Regions from separate parts of the Homo sapiens genome. Here region 2 is linked to region 1. Evidence: fine-mapped expression QTL. Tissue or cell type: whole blood. Region 1 holds a variant in brackets; the other region holds the start of a gene. Each region is shown on its reference strand, or each on the opposite one.

Region 1 (4,393 bases):
GGAGTTCAAGACCAGCCTGGCCAACATGGTGAAACCCCGTCTCTACTAAAAATACAAAAATTAGCTAGGCGTGGTGATGCACACTTGTAATCCCAGCTACTCGGGAGGCTGAGGCAAGAGAATCACTTGAACCCAGGAGACAGAGTTTGCAGTGAGCTGAGATCGTGCCACTGCACTCCAGCCTGGTTGACACAGCAAGACTCCGTCTCAAAAATAAATTAATTAATTAGTTAATTAAAATGAGCATGTCTTTATTATTATACAATACTCACATTGTTTTTTTTATGGCAAGGTCTTCAATATGTTTTCTCCTCTAACACTAAATGTAGCACAGTAGATACCACATCAACAGTGCTCAAAAAGATTTATTGAATAACAAAACCAAGCCAAAAATCATAATGATTTTGCCCTCTTTTGCTGAATTCTATAATGACCAATTCATTTTACTAAATTAAAAGTTAGAGATTTAAATCAGAAGTGAATTTGCATATTTTCTAAAATTACTGATGCAGAACAAGTCAAAAATGAAAATATTTTATGAACAAAATCAAACTGTATTTAAATTCAAGTTTCACTAGGTACAATGTCTAATTAGCAGAAATACCCTATGACTTTAAAACATTACATATCAAACAGAAAGTATACTTAAAGCAGAATGGGTTCATTTCTACTTCTCTTAAATGTAAGGCCATGGATTGTGAGAAAAAAAAAAGTTTCTGGTTCTGTAAATGTAAGTTATGCACATGTGGGTTATTTATAATGAGATGTTTAAGGTTGAACATTATAAATTACCTGTTTACAGCTCAATTCCATGATTATTTGGAAATGTGTATATAGTTTGGGCTCTTGCACTTATGCAACTAAGGCACTGCAAAAACTTAAACTAAAAACACAAATCACTTTTGTGACACTCTTGAAAAGACTGACTAAATATATTTTTGTGTGTGTGTGCAACCAACTCCCAGCACATCAGGTGGGTAACTCTTCCCACACGAATAGTCTGCCTACCCTCAGGAATATTTTTTGTCTGTGGTACCTCAGCCTATCGTTGTTTGAATGGCTCTTCAGAATCTATATGCTTCCTCTCATTCTTAGCGCCCCCTATGACCATCTACACTGAACAAGATTTATACAATCATGTCGTACCTAAGCCCCGCAACAAAAGGGTACCCATTCTTCCTTTTGTTATCGGAGCAGGAGTGCTAGGTGGAGTAGGTACTGGCACTGGCGGTATCACAACCTCTATTCAGTTCTACTACAAACTATCTCAAGAACTAAATGGTGACATGGAACGGGTCTCTGACTCCCTGGTCACCTTGCAAGATCAACTTAACTCCCTAGCAGCAGTAGTCGTTCAAAATAGAAGAGCTTTAGACTTGCTAGCCGCCGAAAGAGGGGGAACCTGTTTATTTTTAGGGGAAGAATGCTGTTATTATGTTAATCAATCCGGAATCGTCACCAAAAAGTTAAAGAAATTCGAGATCGAATACAACGTAGAGCAGAGGAGCTTCAAAACACTGGCCCCTGGGGCCTCCTCAGCCAATGGATGCCCCGGATTCTCCCCTTCTTAGGACCTCTAGCAGCTATAATATTGTTACTCCTCTTTGGACCCTGTATCTTTAACCTCCTTGTTAATTGGACCCTGTATCTTTAACCTCCTTGTTAAGTTTGTCTCTTCCAGAATCGAAGCTGCAAAGCTACAAATGGTTCTTCAAATGGAGCCCCAGATGCAATCCATGAGTAAAATCTACCACGGACCCCTGGACCGGCCTGCTAGCCCATGCTCCAATGTTAATGACATCAAAGGCACCCCTCCCGAGGAAATCTCAACTGCAGAACCCCTACTACGCCCCAATTCAGCAGGAAGCAGTTAGAGCGGTGGTCGGCCAACTTCCCCAATAGCACTTGGGTTTTCCTGTTGAGGGGGGCACTGAGAGACAGGACTAGCTGGATTTCCTAGGCTGACTAAAAATCCCTAAGCCTAGCTGGGAAGGTGACCACTTCCACCTTTAAACATGGGGCTTGCAACTTAGCTCACACCCGACCAATCAGATAAGAAAGAGAGCTCACTAAAATGCTAATTAGGCAAAAACAAGAGGTAAAGAAATAGCCAATCATCTATTGCCTGAGAGCACAGCAGGAGGGACAATGATCGGGATATAAACCCAGGCATTCAAGCTGGCAACGGCTACCCTCTTTGGGTCCCCTCCCTTTGTATGGGAGCTCTGTTTTCACTCTATTAAATCTTGCAACTGCAAAAAGAATATATATATATGTGTATATATATACACATATATATACATATATATATACACATATATATACACATATATATACACATATATATATACACATACATATTTTTGTGTGTGTGTAGTTGGTAAAACTCTTACGTCACAAAATCCTTTAGGGAGTCGCTTTCACAAACATAGAGGATCTCTTTTGGTTTGCAGTGAAACAAGTCCTTAATTTTCTCCATGATCTTTATGGCTAGGGCTGTCTTCCTGACTCCTGGAAAGCAGTAGATGAATAATTCACGTGTCTTCTGAAGACTCTCAGAAAGCAACTGGCTCTGCTCCATTATGAGCAAGTTGAAAAATTCACAGCCCATCTGGTCACTCAGAAGAGATCTGGAGGACAGGGAGAC[C/G]ACCACCAGAGCCTGCAGCAAGTCTTCCATTTCCTCCTCATCAGCAAGCCTGTAGGACCTGGGGTAACGCAGGGGGATCTCACCAGGTCTACTCTGTGTGCTGCTCAGGTGTATCAGCCTTGGAATGATGCACACTTTCCCTGTGTAACCACCAACAGTTTGCAGTTTCTGCTTTAACTGATGAGCTGTGTTTCGGGCATATTCAAGTCCTCCAGGCCAATTGGGGTCTATTAAGATTGTATAGAGTACCACGGGGCTGTTAACTGCTATCAGGAGAGCATCACACAGGACATTCTGTTCTTTCCTGAAGCCAACATCACCAGCCCAGCTTCTAGAAAATATCACAATCCCCTGAGAACAAGGATGTATCAGGGTCTTCATTAAACCCTCCAGTTCTTTATGATCTGAGAACAGCTTCTTACAGAGGGATTCTGGTTTAAATTGTACCTCTTCCTGTGTCACTGAAAATTCAAGGAATAGATGTTACCAAAACTTACAAAAGCATGTGGTAAGTATTCCTGCAACGTTGCAGAAAAAAATGATACCTGGTGCATTTGGGAAAATAAGAGCTTTCCTTTAGAATTGTGATTCTTAATCAGGAGCAGTTTTACTCCCCAACTCTCCCCCATCCCCACGGACATTTGGCAATGTCTGGAAAATTTTTTCTTTTTTTGTGAGACGGAGTCTCGCTGTCACCCAGACTGGAGTGCAGTGGTGTGATCTTGGCTCACTGCAGCCTCTGCCTCCCTGGTTCCAGTGATTCTTCTGCCTCAGCCTCTGGAGTAGCTGAGATTACAGTCACATGCCACCACACCTGGCTAATTTTTGTATTTTTAGTAGAGACAGCGTTTCACCATGTTGGCTAGGCTGGTCTCAAACTCCTGACCTCAGTTGAGGTCACCCGCCTTGGCCTCCCAAAGTGCTGGGATTACAGGCATGAGCCACCATGCCCGGCCTGAGAATTTTTTATTGTCACAATTGGAGGGGAGCTACTGGTATGTAGTAGGTACCAGATAGGAATGCTGCTAAGTATTCTACAATTCACAGGGCTCTCCCTCCCCCAGCAAAGAGTTATCTGACTCAAATGACAATAGTGCTAAGGTTGAGAAACCCTGCTTTAGAAGAAGTTCAGATAACCCAATGGCTCCTTCTGCATTGGAAAGCTAGGGGCAGTTTTTTGATGGTTGAGACCTGAGAAATTCCCTGCACTCTCAAATTTGGAAAACAAAAGCCATATGTTATGAGAAGTTGGAAGGCACACAGAAATAGTAATAGTGGGAATCAGATGACTGGAAACAAGGGTCAGATATATAGATATATAAATATTATATATAATTATATATAATAATTATATAATAAATTAATAATAAATATTAATAATTATTTTAAATAAGTATATATATGACCCTTGTTTTCAGTCATATATATATTATATATATAATATATATATTTCAAATTTCAGGATCATTATGTCGCTAAGTCCTTCATTTGACCTTCCCTAAGGAGAAACACCTGAACTCATTACTACTAACACCTCCCAACTCAATTTTAGAAAACAAATAGTCCCCTAAGTTGAAATCAAGAGGGAATACCTGGAAACAAATGTCGTTGCAGAGCCTCCTTAAATTTGTGGACTTTTATGGGATATCCGGGACTTTTTCGTGCAGATGAAGCTGATGAAATCAGGCAAGAGTTGTAGTCTGTGACCAAACTGGGAGGAGCTAGACAATTACATGGAAAGTTGTT
Region 2 (4,393 bases), not on the chromosome of region 1:
AAAAAAGATGCATTGATGGGGTTAGGAGCTGCCAGCGCCTGGCGTGCTGGCTGTGTGGCTCTGGGCAGGTGACTCAGCCTCTCTGAGCCACTGTTAGCAGATCTGGGAAACGGGGACACAGCACATTGTGCATGTGTGTGAGTCAGTGGATAGAGTACATCAATGTGAAGCATCTCCAGTAGTTGCCTCTGGCTGGTGATCACGGTGGTGACCACGTGACTTCCAACCCTCACAGCACAGATGGGGAAATGAGGCTCAGGGGACGAGAGGGCCAGGGCCAAGGGCACCCTGATCCACCTTTGCTCCTTACCCAGAATGTCCAGCCACTCTTCTGGGGCCGGGGCTGGGGCGGGCTCGGGCTCCATGGCAGCAAGGAACTCTCGGGCCAGGGCCCCAGGCTGCTCAGCCTCCTCCGCCGGGGGTTGTCCCATGTCCTCCAGCGGTGGCAGCTCACTCAGGTCATCCTCTTCCTCCTCTTCCTCCTCCTCTTCCTCCTCACCCTCTGCATCCTCAACCCCATCCAGTACCTCGAAGTCCTCGAGCGGTGGGACCCCGGCGGGCAGTGGGGCAGAGGGCTCAGAGGGTTCAGCACACGATGCCATGCTGCTGGGGGGACAGGAATTGGCCCTGGAAGTGGGGGGCAGAGATGTGGGTCAGAATCCTACACAGCCCCTCAAAGTCTCCACTGTACTGATTCCCCACACTGCCGATCACTTTCTGTGTAACTCAAGGGCTCCAGGCCTCAGTTTCCTCATCTATACAGTGGGTGTAACAACAACCCCAGCTTGTTGGGAGAAATTAACCCATGCATCAAGCCCTTGGCATCAGGCTCAAATAGTGTTAGCCATTATTAGAGCTAATTATTATTTAATGTTTACAAATACTCCAGGAAGTAGGGAAGATTCCCCTCAACATTTTGCAGAACAGGAAACAGGCCAGAGGGGCAAAGGCATTTGCCCAAGGTCACAGAGAAAGCCAAAGGCCAAAGGAGGATTTGAACCTGGGGCTTCAGGCCCTGTGGCTTTGCCTGATTATAAGCTGAGCGAAGGGTGCTGGGATTTTTGTGGAGAGGACAGCCTCCGAGGCCTTAGGGAAGCCATTTTTAGAGCCTCTAAGGCCACTGGGGGAAATTGAATCTTTTACCAGGGCCTCCCACCTCCAGCCTCTTCTCCAAAGGGGAGACCCTCCCCAAAAGCACCAACTGTAATCACCCAGAAACCCCAAGCGTTTTTTCCTTCCACACTCTGAATCTAACACTATCCCCCACAACCCCAACATCAGGGACCCTGGCCCAAATCCTTCCCCAGGAGACCATCCTCCTCTCATCAGGCCTCGGTCCCACCCCCTCAAAGCAGCCTCCTTTCCAGGAGTGGTCGAGGTCCCACCACATTCTACAGCCTCTTCCTTGCCCCAGACCTCCTGAACCAATAACCAACCCCTCCGTCCCCCAGGCCCCAAGCTCAGAAGAGTGTGGCACAGCCATCAAACCAGCCCGCCGCATCCCCTCCCTAACCCTCACCTGCCTGCTCCTCCCGGGCTCGGAGCCCCACTTTGAGAGACCCTCCCAGCCCCCACCCCCATAATTCCCCGCGCCCGCACAATTCGGCCTCCCCTCCCACCCCCCACCCCAACCACCACCGCCCCCAGCACGGGCCAGCTCCCCCCACAGCCGCTCCGTCTCGCCGTAAACACTCCAGTGTCCCCAGACGCCCCCCCCTTTCCGATCCCATAACACCCCACGCTCTCCTGACGCCCCACAGCCCCGGCCGGGCCCTCAGTCAAGCCGCGACCCAGGCCCCCAACGACCCACGCCTGTCTGACGCCACCAGTCTGGGGCACCCGACCCCCGCACGCCTCGGGCGCCCCTGGCCCTGCACGCCTCCATCGGGACCCCCCCACTGGATCCCCTTTGCCCCCAGTGACCCCCATCCCTGGCCACCCCCGCCCGGCCGCGCCCCCTCGGGCACCCCCGACCCCCGTGCCCCCCCGGCTCGCCACCCCCGCGGCCCCTCGCCCCGCCCATCGGCCGCAGCCCCCGGCGCGCTAGCCCCCGGACCAGCCTAGGCCAGGGCAGCGGCCCGGCCGGCACGGCGCCCCCAGCACCCCAGGACACTTGCCTCTGGCTCCGGGACCCCCACTTGGGGTCCTGCGCCCCCCTCCCCGCCCCCAGCCGCGGCCGCCGCGCCTCGGGAACCAGGTTCGGCCGCTTGGCCCCGCCCCTGCCGTGCCCATTGGCCGCCGCTGCCGCGACTGCCGCACCCGTTGGCTCATGCAGACGTCCGTCCCGGGCGTTGGCACCTCCCCCTTCCTGCTTGGCCCCGCGGGGCGTTCTTAAAGGGACCGAAGCCTCCCGGCTGCTGGGGCTGGGGCGGGGGCTGGGGCGGGGGCTGGGGCGGGGGCTGGGGCGGGGGCGGGGGACCCTGGGCTGGACCCCAACACGGGTCAGTATCGCGCAGCCTGTGCGACTCCTGCCTCTCCTCTGAGCTTCATCCTGACCATCTGCGAAATGGGGATAAACACCCCCATCTATGCACTCTCACCTTGGGGGCTGCTGGGGGCACAGTCCACTCTAAATGTTATTTCCTTAAAGAGTTCAAGCTTGACGGGCAGGGCAGCTCTGGGGTTGCTGAATGACCCATCCTGAAGCCTTAGTTACAGAAGTGAACCTGAGGGCCTGAGGAGGAGTGACGTGCCCAAAGGCATACAGAAACCTCCCTCCCATCCCCCACACAGTTTAATGTCTAGAAGGTTGCCTGGTGCATACTGGAGGCGCTCGATTACTGCTGCGCAGGCGACTGAGCCAGCAGGGCCACTGGGAGGAGTTCCTCCTCTATGCACTGTCTGCTGGAGGGTGATAAGGTCCCCATGGCTCGGGAAGAAGGTGGCATCCTTGATTAGCTAAGTTTTTGTGGATCTTGTTTTGAAACCGGGACACTTCTCCCTCCTTCACTCAGTTTTATTTCCTTCCTAGCAGTTACTCCTTCCAGAATTATCTTGTCATTATTTTGCTTGTGGTTGGAGGGACCATCCCTCACTCTGCTTCATCCTGGCAGAGATTTTTACCTGATTTGTACCCAGCACCTCCTTGAACCATGCCTGGCATCTATAGAAGCTCAATAAATGGGTAGGTGGATGGATGGATGGATGGATGGATGGATGGATGGATGGATGAGTCAGACACCAGCTTTTGGAGGTAGCTATCATGGAGGTGGTAACTGGCTTTTTGGAGATCACTTCTAAGGTTGGAGTTCCCAGGTTACCTCCTACAGGAAGCCCTCCCAACCTCCCCAAGGCAAGACCAGGTGCCCCCTTTAGCTGTCTTGGCACAATGAAGTTGATGAACGTCCACTTCATAACTAGTTTACTTGGGTTTTTTGTTTGTTTGTTTGTTTTTGTTTTTTGAGAAGAAGTTTCACTCTTGTTGCCCAAGCTGGAGTGCAATGGCGCAATCTCAGCTCACCGCAACCGCTGCCTCCCAGGTTCAAGCGATTCTCCTGCCTCAGCCTTCCAAGTAGCTGGGAGTAGAGGCATGCACCACCATGCCTGGCTAACTTTGTATTTTTAGTAGACACGGGATTTCTTCATGTTGGTCAGGCTGGTCTCAAACTCCCGACCTCACGTGATCCGCCCACCTCGATGTACCAAAGATTACAGGCATGAGCCATCGTGCCTGGCCTTTTTTTTTTTTTTCTTTCTCTTTTTTTTTTGAGACAGAGTCTCTCTCTGTCGCCAGGCTGGAGTGCAGTGGCGCGATCTCGGCTCACTGCAACATCCACCTCCTAAGTTCCAACGATTCTCCTGCTTCAGCCTCCTGAGTAGCTGGGACTACAGGCACCCGCCACCATGCCCAGCTAATTTGTATATTTTTAGTAGAGACAGGGTTTCACCATGTTGGCCAGGATGGTCTGGAACTCCTGACCTCATGATCTGCCTGCCTCGGCTTCCCAAACTAGTTTACTTATATCTCTGCCTTTTTTTTTTTGAGATAGGGTCTTACTTTGAAACCCAGGCTGGAGTGCAGTGGCACGATCTCAGATCACTGCAACCATGTCTATCTCCTGGGCTCACGCAATCCTCCTGCCTCAGCCTCCTGAGTAGCTGGGCCCACAGGTGCACCATCATGTCCAGCTAATTTTTTTTTTTTTTTTTGAGACAGAGTCTCGCTGTGTAGCCCAGGCTAGAGTGCAGTGGCGCAATCTCGGCTCACTGCAAGCTCCGCCTCCCAGGTTCACACCATTCTCCTGCCTCAGCCTCCCAAGTAGCTGGGACTACAGGCGCCTGCCACCATGCCCGACTAATTTTTTGTATTTTTAGTAGAGTCAGCGTTTCATCGTGTTAGCCAGGATAGTCTCGATCTCCTGACCTTGTGATCTGCCCACCTCGGCCTCCCAAA

What was found.
Region 2: FKBP8 starts here. The variant in region 1 is fine-mapped to the expression of FKBP8 in whole blood (TOPMed, PIP 0.93).

What each region holds. Positions count from the first base shown.
Region 1 is chr17:35,550,337-35,554,729 of GRCh38, forward strand. SLFN14 (schlafen family member 14) reads right to left here. Exons shown (of 6, transcript NM_001129820.2): 4 at 4,240-4,368; 5 at 2,394-3,108. It overlaps LOC107985033 (a long non-coding RNA gene), which reads left to right and starts at 2,869. Exons shown (of 2, transcript NR_138032.1): 1 at 2,869-3,155; 2 at 4,262-4,393. The variant C/G (reference allele first, on the strand shown) is at 2,648.
Region 2 is chr19:18,541,369-18,545,761 of GRCh38, forward strand. FKBP8 (FKBP prolyl isomerase 8) reads right to left here and starts at 2,205. Exons shown (of 9, transcript NM_012181.5): 1 at 2,118-2,205; 2 at 311-627. The coding sequence starts at 602. RefSeq lists an enhancer at 1-458 and a silencer at 2,021-2,450.